Homo sapiens: one gene and its partners. The protein of the gene in region 2 purifies or fractionates together with the protein of the main gene of each other region. This does not show direct contact. Each region holds a gene or a part of one and is shown on either strand. Other genes may lie near its edges. The genes, in order: WWP1, TMEM255A, SEC24B and COLGALT2.

Evidence for each region.
Region 1: the proteins of TMEM255A (region 2) and WWP1 purify together in Homo sapiens (affinity purification with mass spectrometry; 3 studies listed by BioGRID and IntAct, with this or other methods). This does not show direct contact.
Region 3: the proteins of TMEM255A (region 2) and SEC24B purify together in Homo sapiens (affinity purification with mass spectrometry; 2 studies listed by BioGRID and IntAct, with this or other methods). This does not show direct contact.
Region 4: the proteins of TMEM255A (region 2) and COLGALT2 purify together in Homo sapiens (affinity purification with mass spectrometry, with the first as the bait; one large-scale study listed by BioGRID). This does not show direct contact.

What each region holds. Positions count from the first base shown.
Region 1 is NC_000008.11:86,429,431-86,433,215, forward strand, and holds part of WWP1 (NEDD4-like E3 ubiquitin-protein ligase WWP1), read left to right. Parts: intron 1-1,266; coding exon 1,267-1,321; intron 1,322-1,975; coding exon 1,976-2,060; intron 2,061-2,184; coding exon 2,185-2,313; intron 2,314-3,785. UniProt on the Homo sapiens protein: E3 ubiquitin-protein ligase which accepts ubiquitin from an E2 ubiquitin-conjugating enzyme in the form of a thioester and then directly transfers the ubiquitin to targeted substrates.
Region 2 is NC_000023.11:120,308,610-120,313,177, forward strand, and holds the start of TMEM255A (transmembrane protein 255A), read right to left. Parts: upstream 2,853-4,568; 5' UTR 2,701-2,852; coding exon 2,643-2,700; intron 1-2,642.
Region 3 is NC_000004.12:109,457,775-109,461,559, forward strand, and holds part of SEC24B (protein transport protein Sec24B), read left to right. Parts: intron 1-3,785. UniProt on the Homo sapiens protein: Component of the coat protein complex II (COPII) which promotes the formation of transport vesicles from the endoplasmic reticulum (ER).
Region 4 is NC_000001.11:184,027,613-184,031,397, reverse strand, and holds part of COLGALT2 (procollagen galactosyltransferase 2), read left to right. Parts: intron 1-3,785. UniProt on the Homo sapiens protein: Beta-galactosyltransferase that transfers beta-galactose to hydroxylysine residues of collagen.

The DNA of each region.
Region 1 (3,785 bases), on a different chromosome or scaffold from region 2:
ATTCATCAAGATGCATATACTTTAAGAAATTATTTTTCAGGTAATGATTTTTATATTTGTCATTATTATAGAATTCTTGATAGAATACTTATATTTTCTTCAGAATATATTTCTAGGTTATAAGAATGGAGGCATACATAAAAATGTGTTTTTATGTATGTATGAAAATATAAAAGATACTAATTAAAAGTTTATTTCTATAAATGATACTGGAGTTGAGTGTTAGTTTTATTAGTGGGCATTTGTTTTAAAGAAAATTGTGATAACTGTTCTATTTTTAAACAAATAATATTGCCTCATTTAAACATCATAATTTCCTATATGTTCTTCTCCCATTTCATCTTCCCTCTATAGATTAGTATGGAAGGACTGGGAGAGTAAAGTATTGATGCCAGTGTATTATTTTTAAATCATTTTCGAAAAACTAATAATTAATTTGATAGTTGATAGTCTCCTCTTCGTGACATTTTATGAACTTAGTGTCTTGGCTGGGAGCGGTGGCTTACACCTGTAATCCCAGCACTGTGGGAGGCTGAGGCGGGTGGATCGCTTGAGCCTAGGAGTTCGAGACCAGCCTCAGAAACATGGCAAAACCTTGTCTCTACAAAAAATACAAATATTAGCCGGGTGTGGTGGCGCATATCTGTAGTCCTAGCTACTCGGTTGTTGCTGAGGTGGGAGGATTGCTTGAGCCCGGGAAGCAGAGGCTGCTGTGAGCTGAGATCACGCCACTGCACCCCAGTCTGGGTAATAGAGCAGGAAGATCCTGTCTCAAAAAACAAAGAACTTTGTGTCTTGAAATTGCTATATTTCCTTATAATGTGGACCTATCTATCTGTCTATATAATAATATAGATATATTTTTGAGACAGCTTCTCGCTCTGTTGTGCAGGCTGGAGTGCAGTAGTAGTGTGATCACAGTTCACTGTAGCCTCCACCTCCTGGGCTCAAGTGATCCTCCCACTTCAGCCTTCCAAGTAGCTGGGACTTTAGGCATGTGCCAACACATCTGGCTAATTAAAAAAAAATTTTTTTTTATAGAGACAGGATCTTCCAGGCTGGTCTTGAACTCCTGGGCTTAAGTAATCCTCCCACCTTGCCCTCCCAAGGTGCTGAGATTACAGGCATGAGCCACTGCGCCCAACCCCTTATCATATTTTTAGAAAATTATTATAAAATGTGATTCTGCCACATGCTTGGCTTATTTCTACTTTCATATTAAAACACTGTTATTTTATTTCTCTCCCTAATCTTTTCTCCAATCAGGCTTCAATGTTAGCTGCAGAAAATGACCCTTATGGACCTTTGCCACCAGGCTGGGGTAAGCTGTTTTTGCTAATGATCTATAAGGGAGATATATATCTCTCCATATATATATATATATATATATATATATATATATGTTCCTTATTTTATATATATATATCTCCCTTATATATGTCCCTTAACATATATATATCCCTTATAATATATAATATATTTAATATGGATTATATATTCTATATATTATATATTCTGTAGAATGTTATATATTCTGTATACTATATAGAATATATAATCCATATTAAATATATTATATATTATAAGGGATATATATGTATATTATATATGTATATATTATAAGGGATATATATATGTATATTATAAGGGATATATATATGTATTATATATATAATATACAGAATATATAGAATAGATTATATATTAAAGAATTATATATTATAGAATATATATTATATTCTACATAATTATCTATAATATAATATATATTATATTCTCTATAATATAATATATGTTATATTCTCTATAATATATATTATATTCTATATAATATATTCTATAATATATAAGGGATACATATATCCCTGATATGTTTTTATATATATAATATATATTATATATAATTATATGTGTTCCTTATTTTATATATAGATCCTAAATAGTTATTAAATATTATACTCACTTTATATTTCAGAAAAAAGAGTGGATTCAACAGACAGGGTTTACTTTGTGAATCATAACACAAAAACAACCCAGTGGGAAGATCCAAGAACTCAAGGGTATGTATATACAGCAGCCTTAAGTCGTCTTGCATATATCAGTAGGTAGAACCAACCAACCTTGAATGAGATATTTTTAGTACCTAGAAAAGGTTCATCTTGTGATTTTAACTTTATCTTTTAGCTTACAGAATGAAGAACCCCTGCCAGAAGGCTGGGAAATTAGATATACTCGTGAAGGTGTAAGGTACTTTGTTGATCATAACACAAGAACAACAACATTCAAAGATCCTCGCAATGGGAAGTCATCTGTGTGAGTGAAAACCTGAAGTTCTCCTTTAAATATTGCTTAGTGAGCACATGAGATTTAGTCTCTAATTTATCCTCAAGTTTAGCAAAACATTTTACTTTTTGGTTCAAGAAAACCTACACAAGTGAAACCTTAGTATAGCTGTCTTTGCTCTCATTTGACAATGGATTTGCAGCATGTAAACTATTTATGTAGTGATTACTGTGTGCCGAGGATTGTTCTAAGTACTTCATAGGTATTAACTCATTTTATCTTCCAATAACCCCTTGAGGTAGATACTATTATTTTTCCCTTTACCAAGTGAGGAGAGGTATAGGGAGCATAACTAACTGTGCAAAGTTATAAGGCAAGTAATGGAGCTGGTTTCTAACGATGACAGTCAGTCTCTGTCTAGACTCTGTGCTCTTAACTGCCACATCACACTGCTGCAATGAGATGGTCAGTGAAATGATTTTTCCAGATTTAAAGATACCTTAATTAAGCGGTTGACAGATCTCTCCTTCATTCTTACTCTAAGGTGTCATGTCTTTGCATAACTAAGAAAATAGAAGCAATCCTAAAAGGTCTTTTGCAAAGTTGTACCACCATATCTGTCCGTCTCCTACCATCTCTCCTCCCTCCTGTTCCTATAGATGAACTGTCATTGTTATTATCAAAGTCTCGTCCCTCTGCTGGTACATTCGATTCCTACCCCCACTTTTCTACTTAATTGCTCCAACAGTTATCACCTTTGTGTTGCATTATCAGGTTTTATTTCTCTACAAAATTATTCTTATCAGCTGTTATTTCTCCTAGATATAAAAAAAAAGCAAAAAAAAAAAGAAATTACAACTCTTCCCTTTACCAATGTGTTCAATCGCAGTTCATTTTTTTGTTTTTTTTTTGAGACGGACTTTCGCTCCTGTTGCCCAGGCTGGAGTGCAATGATGCGATGTCAGCTCACTGCAACCTCCACCTCCTGGGTTCAAGCGATTCTCCTGCCTCAGCCCCCTGAGTAGCTGGGATTACAGGCACCCGCCACCACACCCAGCTAATTTTTGTATTTTCAGTAGAGATGGGGTTTCGCCATGTTGGCCAGGCTGGTCTCGGACTCCTGACCTCAGGCGATCCACCTGCTTTGGCCTCCCAAAGTGCTGGGATTACAGGCGTGAGCCATCACACCCAGCCCACAGTTCATTTTTATTGCTCCCCTTTACAGGAAAGCTACTTGCATGGTTGTCTCTGTATTGCTGTTCATAGTTTCTCCTTTAAACCAACTCCAAGGAAGTTCCCCTGACACTGAATTTGCAAGGGCACCAATGATCTTCACATTGTTAATCCAGGCGTTGGTTTGCAGTCCTGCCTGATTTGACTTACCAGGAACATTTGACACAATACATTTCTCTCTCCTGGCAAAAGTAGTGCTGTGAGCCATACTTTCTTGATTTCCCTCTGCGTTTCTGTTCTTCTATCTTTATTTTGTCGAGTCCTCCTTT
Region 2 (4,568 bases):
GAAATCCATCCCTCCCCACTTTAGACAGTTCTCTGAATGGAGAACATCCGAGGCCGCCCGCGAATTACAAATGTGTTATTTGGGAGGAAGGAATGCCCTACTGTAGTAGAGGTGCCTTTGCGCCTGGGGGCGGTGTTGCCAAAAGGGAGAAGGGGGTTGCTGGGAGGGGATGGGGGGACACTGGAGTCAAATTACCATCTTCTTAATTGCAAAGCGCCTGCTCCACTCTGAGCCTTGGACGCACTGCTCTATTCCCAGGCAGCCAGCAAGCGTAGAGTGCAGGCACCTTGGTGCAGTGTGTCTGCGTGTTTTAAATTTTATTGTTTTGGTTGCGGTTGTGTCTTGACAATAAAGGGAGTCCCCTCAGAAATGCTGCCCTTGGAGGCTGAAACACTAACCTACCTACCCACTGTCCTCTTCCCCCCACGCAAGGGAAGGTGGTGTTGCCAGAGCTAAGTGGGAGTAGCTCCTAAGTAGCCTAGACGCTGATTCAGGCCCGGACTGTGCGGGACCAGGGCCAGGGAACTCCGGGGAGACTCCCCTGTCCAAACTGTGGAAACCCAGCGTTAGCACTGGACTCAGGAATTTGCCAGTGCCGTCGGTCTGCGGACTTCAAAAAGTGGAATGCGTGGCGCCGGCTCCGCTTCTATCTGGGATTTATGATTCCTTTCCCGCAGTGTGGAGACTGGGCTGGGCGAAGCCCACTCAGCTGTTTGTTGCGCAGACCTTTCGAGAAACACAAGATCGCTGAGGGCCCCTGGGAGCCCAAGAAAGAAAGCTCTTCATCTTGTTCCCCAACCCACAGAGCAGTGCGCCAAGTAGCGACTCTTTAAGCCCTGGGCCACCAACCAGCCCACTCCCCGAAGGCAGACGGGCCCGGGGCGCTGTGGCTTGATTTGCAGGTGGTTAGGTGGTTGTCGTCCGCAGCGGGAATGGACGCTGCGGAACCCCAGCACTCTTCCACTCTGCCCTCCCTCGCGAAGCGCAACAGCTTGGCGTCGGGGAGCCAGGGCTGCGTTGTTGGCGCCACAGCTGGCCAAGGTAAGCAGTGCATTCCCACCTCTCTGTCTCTCTCTCTCTCGCTCTCGCTGTCGCTCTCTCTCGCTCTCGCGCTCTCTCTCTCTCCCTCTCCCTCTGTATGTGTGTGCGCGTGGTGTGTGTGTTGGAGAAAGAGTGCGCGCGCGCGAGCTGGGAGTAAGGGGGAGTCTGGTACTGCTGGGCTCGGGATTCGGACCAAGTCCTTGGCCTCATTTGTACCCCGTTGTAAATAACTACGCCCTTAAAAATGAAAAAGCAAATTCTTATACTGAATATGCAAAACCATTGAGGATACGGATCTTTCCACCATCCAGGAGATAACACTTTCTGGGGCCCCTCCGGTGAACGAGTTTTGTTGACACTGAGTCTTCTGCGGGCAGTAGGGAGATTATATAGGGGGTTCGATCTTCTCCCTGCCCCCTCCACTCGAGATGTTCCCGCAAATTCATCGGAGAAGACCTGAGCAGACTGATGGCAGGAACTGCGGGACAGAGGGATTTTGCAGAATGTAAAGTATGTTGGAAAGAGAGAATTCGATTTGATTGAAGTGTATCCGAGGCGAATTTTAAAAGATTAGGTGGGATCATGATTTTACAATCCCCTCCCGCTCTCCAGGGCTCCAAATTAATTTCTCCGCCCAGTGAAATCACAGGGCTTGGGAAGGTGCCTAACAGCTGAGGGGGACTGGGTTTGTTTTTTTTTGTAACTACCAAAAAGCAGCTTCGAGGGGCAGCCAAGTTGGTGCCCGAAGGTAGCTGTCCCCCAGTTTCTATAAGGAAAGGAGTCGAAGGGTGCCCCTCCCCCTCCATTCCGCCCTGCGAGGAAAAGCGCGACTTCAGAAGATGCGCGGGCTCGCGCTGGATGTTTCTTTCTCGCGCTCTCACTCCTGCCCCTGACTCCCTTTTCACACTCATGCACATTCCGTGCATTTGGAGCAGAGTAACAATCAAATTCAAAGAATGTTGATCCCGCCGCTGCAGAGGGCAGGGCTGGGCTGTCTTGAGTGATTCCTCAGGAATTCCCCTCCCCTCATCCCCCCCTTTCTTCTCACCCCCGCCCATCCCCCAGAGTTGCGCAACCCGCCCCCCCCCCCCAATCAGCGAGGTGCAAGTCAGGCCCCCACCCAACTGCATCTCTAAATTTCAGGGCAGCTTCAAGAGAGTTGGGAGGGGGCGAGGACCCTGCTTCTAATTGTCGTTAGTCGTGAGCTCTTAGAAGTGACCAGGACTTTGCAAAGAGGGAGTGTCGAATGGAAAGCGAAGGCGCAGGTTGCAGGGAAGTGTTTTGATCCTCAGATTGCTGGGATTTACCACCGACTGCAAGTCTGTAGACACACGCACACAAACAGGCACACACCCGCACTCCGGGGCAGAGATACTCCGACGCAAGCTTGGCGCTCCGATCTCCGCACGTCGCTCCCGCTGCAGCCAGGCCGCTCCCCTGGGACTCTGGTCCACCACCCAGACGCTGGGGCGCGAAGACCACCCCATCCATGCCCCGTTTCCCGCTCTCCGGCTTTTGGGGCAGCTGGGGCGTTCACAGTCCAGAGGCCAGGGCACTCAACCCCTGCTGCCGCCGCCCGAAGGAAGGGCCGCTAGACTTACCCATGGAATCGGGCAGGGACATGTCGCTGGACCGCTGCTGAGTCAGGGACTGATGCATGGTGAAAACTGCCCGGTTGCCCCAGTCCCCGAAGCTGCTTCAAGCGCCCCCGGCTCTGGGCGCCCCGCAGAGCATCCTACTCCGCGGTTGCCTCTCTCGGTCCTTCCGAGAGCTGAGAGACACTGCCTCTGGTTGCGAGCTGCAGCCCAAGTGCCGCCTCCCCCTCCCTTCCACTCTTCTCCCTCCCTCCTCTTCTGCCTCCCTCTGCTCTGGGAGGCAGCAGCATTGGCGGTCCGTGCAGCCGCGTGCGCTTGCGCAAGACCCCCCCCCTCCTCCCTCCCCCTCAGTCTCCCCATCCTAGTTATCCACCTCCCAGCCTTCCAAGCCAGACAGGGAGCAGTTTTAGCCCCTTGGGGCCAGGGCTGCGCAGAGAAAGAGGGGGAGGCTTCAGTATGAAGCCAACCAACCTTCTCTATAGTTGGACAGGGTCTTGGGTAATTATCCTGTTCTAGGATTTATAACTGGGGAGGGGGTCAGAGTCAGAGGTTCAGAGCTGAGGAACACACACACACACACACACACACACACACACACTTGAGCAGGTCTGGTCTTAGTGCTTCCAGAATGACATAATGGAGCTGGAGATGATCCAGAGAAGGGCCACTCTATAATCAAAGGGATGGTGTGTGTGGGGCGGGGGGAGGGTGGTGGCTGACATATGAAGATAGATTAAACAAACGCAGACTCTTTAGTCTAGAACGATGAAGGCTGGGAAGTGATGTGACCAGAGTGTATAAAATTATGCAGAGACGGAGAGAAGGAGCACAGCCTTATTCACCAGACCTGAGAATTCTAGAACCAACAGCCCCCAATCTTTAGCTAGAAAATTCAGCTAAAGTATAACTCTGCACCAGAACCCCAGTTTGTACTGTTCAAGTGCTTTTATAACAAGGATCTCATTTTATCATCATAGCAGCCATGCAAGGGAGGAAGAGGAGTTATCAATAACCCCATTATGCAGAGGAGGAAACTGAATCTCAGAGAAGGGAAGAAAATATCCTGTGCCCACTCAGCTAGTAAGTGGCAGAAGTGAGAGCTAGAACCTAGATCTGTTGGACTCCAAGGTGAGTGTTCTTGCTATGGCGACTGAAAAGAACTATTATTCTCTATAGCAAATGGAAAACCTAAGGAATTCATTAGCTCCAAAAGATGCAGCAAGATGAAAATGCAAGTAGCTTTGGAAAGAGTGAAAGTAAAGTCATGGCTGACAGATCCACTGTGGATTACTAAGGGAAACTGGGGATGAGGTGGGAATGTCATTGATCTTGGAAGACAGCCAAATCCTTCTCGAACCTATCCTTTTGGACCCCATTAGGATATTGGGCTTGAAGCACCTTGTGGTTGGACCAAAAGGTGGTTTGAATGTTCTCAAAACAACTGCAGATCAGGATGAGGCCTCCTTGGAGTGCCCCCAAGACATCTATCTGGTGGCCAGGGGAGGTGGAGGGTGAGGAAGCGGGTAACAGTGGACTCCACCTCCCTCTGGGAACAGCCCTGGAAGCCTAACATAGCTAAGAGAATATACCTATTTGGAGGTGCCCATACTGTCCCATTGAGGAGCTCCCAGGCTCTGCTTGCCAGGTCTCCTTCCAACCACCTCCTTCTGATGGTTGCTGCAATCCTTTCTCCATGTTCCCCGAAAAACCCAAACCAAATCAAGTATAAAACTATTCTAAGAGTCAATGGGATGAAGAAGAGTACTTGGCTCTTTCCAGATCTGCCTTGCTAATCTACTGTAAAGCTTTGTTTTTCTTATCCAGGAAATGGGACTGAAGGCCCTTGCCCTTTCCCATCTTCTGAAGGAAGAAAATATGTTTCTTGAAGATTAAAAAGGAAGCCCTTTGTAAAGAACTTGGGCACCCCAGGGG
Region 3 (3,785 bases), on a different chromosome or scaffold from region 2:
CTTCTCTCTGTTTATGTGTATGTCTTTTCTTCTGTATGTATATTTTATAAAGATACATGTGATTGCATTTAGAACCCACTCAAATAATCCAAGAGAGGCTCCTCTTCCCCAGATCTTTAACCTAAGCATGTCTTTTGTCATTTAAGGCAATAATCACACTTTTCCATGTAATTTTCACAGGATTGGGGGGATTAGGATGTGTACATAATCTTTTAGCGGGCCACTCTTTAGCCCACTACATGCTTTACTGATTATTACAAGTGTTAGACTGCTATGTGTTGTCCCACAGGTCTCTCGAATTTTGTTCATTTTTCTTCAGCCTTTTTTTTTTCTCTATGTTTCTTAGATCATTTTCTTAACCAATCTTCAAGGTTGGTCAACTTAATCAAGGTTCATTAAGTCTTCTGCCATACTGTAGAGACCATTTAGCATATTTATTTGTTTTATTTTGAATATTTTTTAAATAGTTTTCATTTCTCTCGATATCCCTTGTCTGTTCATTTACTGGTAACATTTTCCCCCAATTTTTGGAATATATTTTCTTTTCATTTTTGGAATAGATTTATAAAGACTTTGCAGTCTCTGCCAAATTTGGCTTCTGGGCCCACTTTGATTCTGATCTCTACCTCCCTTATTGCTGGGCATCCTGACATCTCCCACTTCTGCACAGTTAAGCTGCCAACTAGAGACTTGACCCAACAATTGCAACTGGTAGGAAGTTATTTTTAGTAAAGTGAATGAACACAAAAATTACCTACAGATCTATTTATTAGGTGGTTTATGTTAAAAAAATGAAAACCTAAATGGCAGATAGAAAATTGATTAAAATATGGTAAATTCATGTAATGGAATACTATTCAGACATTAAAAATAATGATGGAAAGATATTCAAATCATGCTAAATGAAGGAATCATTTAAAAGATACATTATAATCCCACTTTTGCTTAACTAAATTATACATATATATGCAAAAAGAAAATACTGGGTGGATATACATCAGAATGTTAGCAGGTTATCTCGGGAAGATTAAGATGATTTTTATTTGATCACTTTCTGTATTTTTTTTTTTTACAATGACTGTATCACATTTGTGATAAGAAAAGTACTTCTGAAGTTATTTTTCAGAAATTTTACTATATATGTAACAAATTTTTTTCCTCCACAACTTTTATGTCTATTTTAGAAGTATTAAAATACCAGCAGTCTTTTCATACATGCTGCAGAATCATTTTGAATCCCAAGAAAGATCACAGATGAATAATTACTACAAGAGTTTTTTATTCAGATAAGTTAAACATAATATATGTATATGTGTACATAATGCACTGTGTTGCTCTACTCTTCGAAAAAATAGTTCTTTCTTGGAATACAATATTTGGAGGCCATAGAGCTTAAATAAATGTGGAAGAAAACTGAAGCAGGTACACGAGAAAAGAATAGGGGGAAAACACTGAGGGCAGAAAATTTAATCTGTCATGAGAGGCAGAAACAACTGGAATCATAGACATATGCTGTAGACTTTCACCATCCAGTGTGGTGGCCACTAGCTGTACATGGCTGTTGAGTACTTGACATATGGTTGATCAGATTGAGAAGTGCTATAAGTGTAAAATACATAATGATTTTTGAAGAAATAGTACAAAAAAGCAAAATATCTCAGTAATTTAAAAATACTGAATACATGTTAAAAATGATTTACATTTGTCTTTATTAACTTTAATTACTTTCAGATACTTTTTTATACATTGGGAACATTTAGGTCTTGATATAAAGTATGAAATAGTAAGCATCCACATATGATTAGATATATTAGATATTCCCACCCCCCATGTTTTCCTGGAGTAAGTACCTTTCTTTGATAGGCTAGAAAGTAAATAGACTTATTCTGGTGGGCAACTCACTTCTGATAAATTTCAGCAGCTAGGACATTCCTGTTATTTTTAAAAGAATGACATTTGAATAGTTGGGACATAATGATTATTTCTCGTTTCAGATCATGTAGCATGGATATGCCAGATCAGTCACTAAGTGGGTAGATATTTGAACAGATTTCTCTAAATCTGACTTGGCTCTTCATTGATAAATTCTACTAGTGTAGAGTTTTCTGACACTACAGTGAAAGGTAGCAGATCCATCTTTTAATATATTTAAATAGGAGAAAGGAGGACAACATTTTACTTTTGTCGTGTTAATGAAAGATCCTAACAGACTTTATTTCCTTAAGTAAATAAATTCTTTCAGATGAATTATTACCATCTAAAATAATCTAAGAAAAGTAAATTATACACCTAGTAAAATAGCGTTATCAGTATTTTGGTTTTCTGTATACTTCTTGGAATTATAGGAGGAATGTAGATGATATTTTTCCCTTACAGCTTGACTGTGTAAGTTATTTTTATGCTGGCCGTAGAATATATATTACATGACCAGAAATGAAGATTCCATTACATTACTTAGTACAAATTGAAAACAATTAGAAAATGTATGCTTTATTCTTATCTCTTTTATAAACAAGTATTTTAATACATTATTATGGCAAGGAGTGTAGTGGTACTTCCTTTGTGTACTTGTGTCAGTGGAGCTAAAACATCTTGTCAATTTTCTATTAAATTATCCTTTGATTTGAGATATGGCACAGATACCTGTTTCCTTCCACAAGACAGAAAAATTAGATTCCAAGATAATTAAGATTTGCCCAAAACCCAAAGAAAAGTAATTGGAACTAAAACTAGAATTCTGTTTTTGGGACAATTGGCCATTTGTAGCAAAGGACAGCAGATCATTGGTTAAGAGCATAAACTTGAGCCAGATTGCCTGATTCAAATTCCGGCCCATTTAGTTCCTAAGCATGTAACTGTGTTAAACATCTTGACTTTTGTGGCTCACTTATTGATAAATGGGTATAATAATACTATTTACTTTAGAGGATTAAAGAAGTTAATATATGTAAAGCATTTAGAACAGTGAATGGCATATAATGTAATATATTAATATATTAATATTAATAAGACTAATATTAGGATTAATGTTTTGTTGGTATTAATAAAATAAATATATGCTATACTTATCAAAGATATATAAAGATGAAAGTATAAAACACTAGAGTAAAACATGGTTTTATAGTTTTATAATCTTGAAATGAAGAAACCTCTACTAAGTATGATTTAAAAATCTGTCAAGCATAAAAAAAGAATTTTACTACATAATCAAGAAACTATAGCAAAAGATACCATGAACAAAGTGAAAACATAACAGTAACCTGGGGGAAATACTTACAGCACATAACATTAGGCTAATTTTCTACTGTGTGAGAACAGCTAGAAATCATTAAGGAAATCGCAATGCTACAGAAAAAGCAAACAGCAGAGAAAGACACCCAAATGAGAGTCTCAGCATCATTCAAAGTTAACTACTGTAAACTAAAGTGTTTCTCACTTTTCAGATTGGCAGAGATTAATATATAGTCAGTATTGGGACAATGAGGCAATATGAAGCATTATTGATGGGAGGTATAAATTGATAGACCTTTTAAGAGATATTTGCCAATAATGTCAATTTTAAAAACATAAACCTTTTGAACTTCCAGTTTGACTTCTAGAAATTTGTCTTATAGCTTCATCATAAAAGTTGACCTCATAAATATAGATTAGTTCAACCCCAAGATATTCATCAATGGAGATTTGGTGAATAATGTTATATCTCTACAATAAAGTACTATATGTAAATTTTTAAAAGAATAATGAGGATTTATATATGCTAATACTTAAGGATATTCAGCATATAT
Region 4 (3,785 bases), on a different chromosome or scaffold from region 2:
CTAATCTGTTTTGGTATATTTCATAGGGACAGATTATGACTAAAATGTGGGTTGTACATAAATATGCAGGTCACTTGCTGTGATCATAGCTACATAACAGTAGAAAGAAATTTCTCAAGTATTATTAGTGGCAAATGATTAAGGTGGCACTAATCATACACGTATTGGCTACATTTTCAGTTCATATTGGTAAAATAGAGATTCCATTTTTCAGGCTTTTTAATCAGTAGTCTTAGATTTGGTTGTCCCCTAAATTCAGCTTCATTCCAAATGATTGAAGAAATTATCAATCCTCCCTGCAACCTCCAATTTCAAAATATGATTGGAGCTCAGAATATTTCCTCTGGGTAAAAACTGAAGTGACTAATAAATGACACCAATCCTGTTGTTCCAGTTATGACAGCTTAACTACAGAATTAGTAAGAATGCCTAAGTTGCCCTGGTTTTATTATATTGAGTTCCATGATGAGGCATCTAAAGCACAGGGCAGTTAAGAGATTCCCATGGTGATTATGGAATGAGATAACTGATTTCTAGATTTTTAATCCTGTGTAGCTGTTTTAATGCTGATTATTTTATAATGAATATCCTTCTTGGTTTAAAGGAGCATGGGGAGTATTTTAAGCAGAGTTTGGTTTTCTCAGATCTGTTTTTAGCTCCTTTATCCAAGTGATTAGGCCAGGGAGTTTCTTTGTGACTCCAAATACATAAGCATGTGCTTCTTAGGTTCCTTTTGCTTGTCTGTTTCTGGTGGTCATAGGAATGAACAATGAATGCCTTGTAACTGAGAAGGCTGCTGGTTGTCTCTTGGTTCTTTTTCCAACACTTAAACGTGCACTTGGGTCATATTGCTGTGTGGCACCGTCTCCAAGTCTATGGCACAGTATAGTAGGACCATTATAAGGCTTATATAGGACTATAGTAGGACAATAATAAGGCTTGTTTCTGCATATTTCTTGACATAGCATAACAACATACAGTAAAGTCTGAAAGAAAATCATTAGCCTATGGTATGGCCACTACACCTATTCCCCAGTTACCATATCATGAAGAACTTTTACCATATGTGTTTAAATTATAGCTATTATTCATCAGGAATTACAAAACGTATGTATTCTATGTTTTGACATTTTTATTTCAAAAGAGTGACTTGTTCATTTAATTGCATTTAATTGATATGTTGTTAGCATATCAAAAATTGTTAGTTTTTAAAAATTTGAATCCCTTAGGGTCTTTATGGATTTTTAATAGTACTTCAGTTATTTTAAGAATTTGCTCTTCTGACTTTTTTAAATGGGAAAGTAATAAAAAAAGTATGATTGGGAATATCACAAAAAGTAAATCTCCCATCTACTCTATACCACCTGCCAGTGACCAATATTAACACTTTCTTTCATATTTTTCTAGAAACTTTCTATACATATACATATATCCTTTTCATTTTAACCCAAATATGAGTGTTTTACATATCCAGTTCTGGATAAGTGTGATATTTTAAAATCCATCTCTCTATCCCATGTTCTTTAAACACTGCCAGCCTATCTACAGCCATGCCCTGGGTGGCACAATAAAAGCCAGCTTCATATAACACCTGTTCCAGGCAGGTACTCTGAAGGCCTCTCTGATAACACCCGTCCTGCTCTCTTGTCCTTGTCTCTCTGGCCTCTAGAAGGTCTGGCCCTAATAAAAAAAACTTTTTGATGAGGTGTAATATTTATCCAAAAGTTCATATATCATAAATGTATAACTTGGTAACTTTTCACAGACAAAACATGCCATGTAACCAGCACCTGACCTTGCCAGGCCTGGATTCATACACAGCAACTATTGTTGGAGCTGAGTAGCTGCTGTCCCCTGGATTTTGTCCAGGCAGCCCAGTCCCCATCAGACCCACACTGTGTGCACTTGCAGTTAGTCCCCGCTGTCTTTCTTTGACTTGACTTGCCTGACCCATGTTGACATTTGGGTGGTGAGCTTTGCTCCCACCTCAGGCTGCTGAAGGAACCCTAGGACCCAAGCAGTAACTACTTTGGGGAACCAGCAGGCTTGGCAAGCTGCCAGCGAGTGACCTAGTGGTAAAAGGATCAGGATTGTATTACTTTTCCCTTAGCTCTCTACTCCTCTGGTAGGAAAGCTGTGCATTAATGTTCATAAAAATAAAAATCTCATTATAGGTAATAATTGAAAAGTCAGGTAGAATATAAATAGAGTGGCTGTAATTAATTTGCTGGAACTTTCTGTAGTTCAGATCCGTGAAAATGCAGCATTTGTGGTAGGTGGCATTAGCCAAGTCTCTTGCATGAATTAAACCTCAGATTTGGCTGCAGGGCGTTTCTTTTCCTCTCTAGGAGCACCATACAGAAATCCTTTCAGAGTTAGACTTTGAATAATAGCTCCATGACATCTTGCTAGGGCTGACTTTGTAACGTGTTTCACTTAATTGAAGCAACAATTATTATTTTAGTTGTTTGTCAAATTCAGCAAGCTAAGGCCTGTCCCCTGACTTGTTGGTTTAACTGATAAGATTTTGTTCCTCTGCAAACATAATGCAAAATAATCTCCTTCCCTCCAGTGTTTTCTGATTAATGTTTGAAGACATCTTAGAAGATATGTCTTTCAGAAACACAAATAATAACATAAATAATGATCTTAGAATAGTGATCTTGGGCTGTATACCCCCAAGAGTATGGTAGAAGATGAGTCTGGGACAAGCTGCTGAGCTGAAGCATTTTCATGAGTACCTGATTTCATTCACACATTGGCTTTATTGGAATAGTTCATTACCTTCCAGGTTGAATCACTTCAAGACCTATTGAGGGATACATCAGGCTGCAGAGAGGAGGTTCCTTACATAGAGCTTTCCCCATTTGGACTGCCAAGCCCAAAGTGCATACAATTGCTGCCAAGAGGGAAGTAGGACTGTTTCTTTCCAGTCCCTTTTCTTTCTGAGAGTGATTGTATATGTTTTGGAGATGGGGAGGGCAGTGGTGAAGGCAAGTATCTCATTCTCACAAGAGAGAGACATAACTCTAAGACAGGAGAGTCTGTGGAGGTACATTGATTGGTGTTCTCCCTGAAAGCCATATTAAGTGAGAAACTGCTGCATTTTAGAGTCTTGGGAAAGGTAGAATTTTCTAGAGACTAACAGTAGAACTTAAATTCTTGGGATAGTTGTGAAAAGTGTGGTTGTAGACATTTGGGGCCATAGCATTCCCGACACGGAGTCCCTTGCTGGACTAATAGACTGTTTTTTAGTTTCTTGGTTGCCAGCCAGCCCCATAATCCTGTCTCAGCACCACACACCACAATGATTATGGTTTACACCCGCCAAGATAGTGGAAAGTTGCTGCCAAGTGGAATCAGGATTTTTCATGTCATCACTGCACCATTGAACAGTAAGCTTATATGCAGCTTCCACGCCACTGCTTTCCTTGTGCTAGAAACAGGTTGGGCGGGAGAGTATTCAGACAGTCAGACCATCTCTTGTGTTGCAAATGGATTTTGTGGAATTGGCATGTAAGGCTTGAAACAGCCAGCATACGAAAATATTTTAGAAAAGTACAAGCCTCTTCTCTGCCTTTCCTCAATCTTGTTAGATTTTAATAAAATTTATTGGGTACGTTGGTTTCCATTGTAAGCTTTTTATTTAGCAAGACAAACTATGGATTTCTAAAACAATGGATTTTTAAAATGTTACATCCTTTTATTTATTCCACCATCACTGATTGTCTATGTGGATAAATCCAGGTAATCATGTTGAAATTAGTAATTGAGGTGGCCTAAAA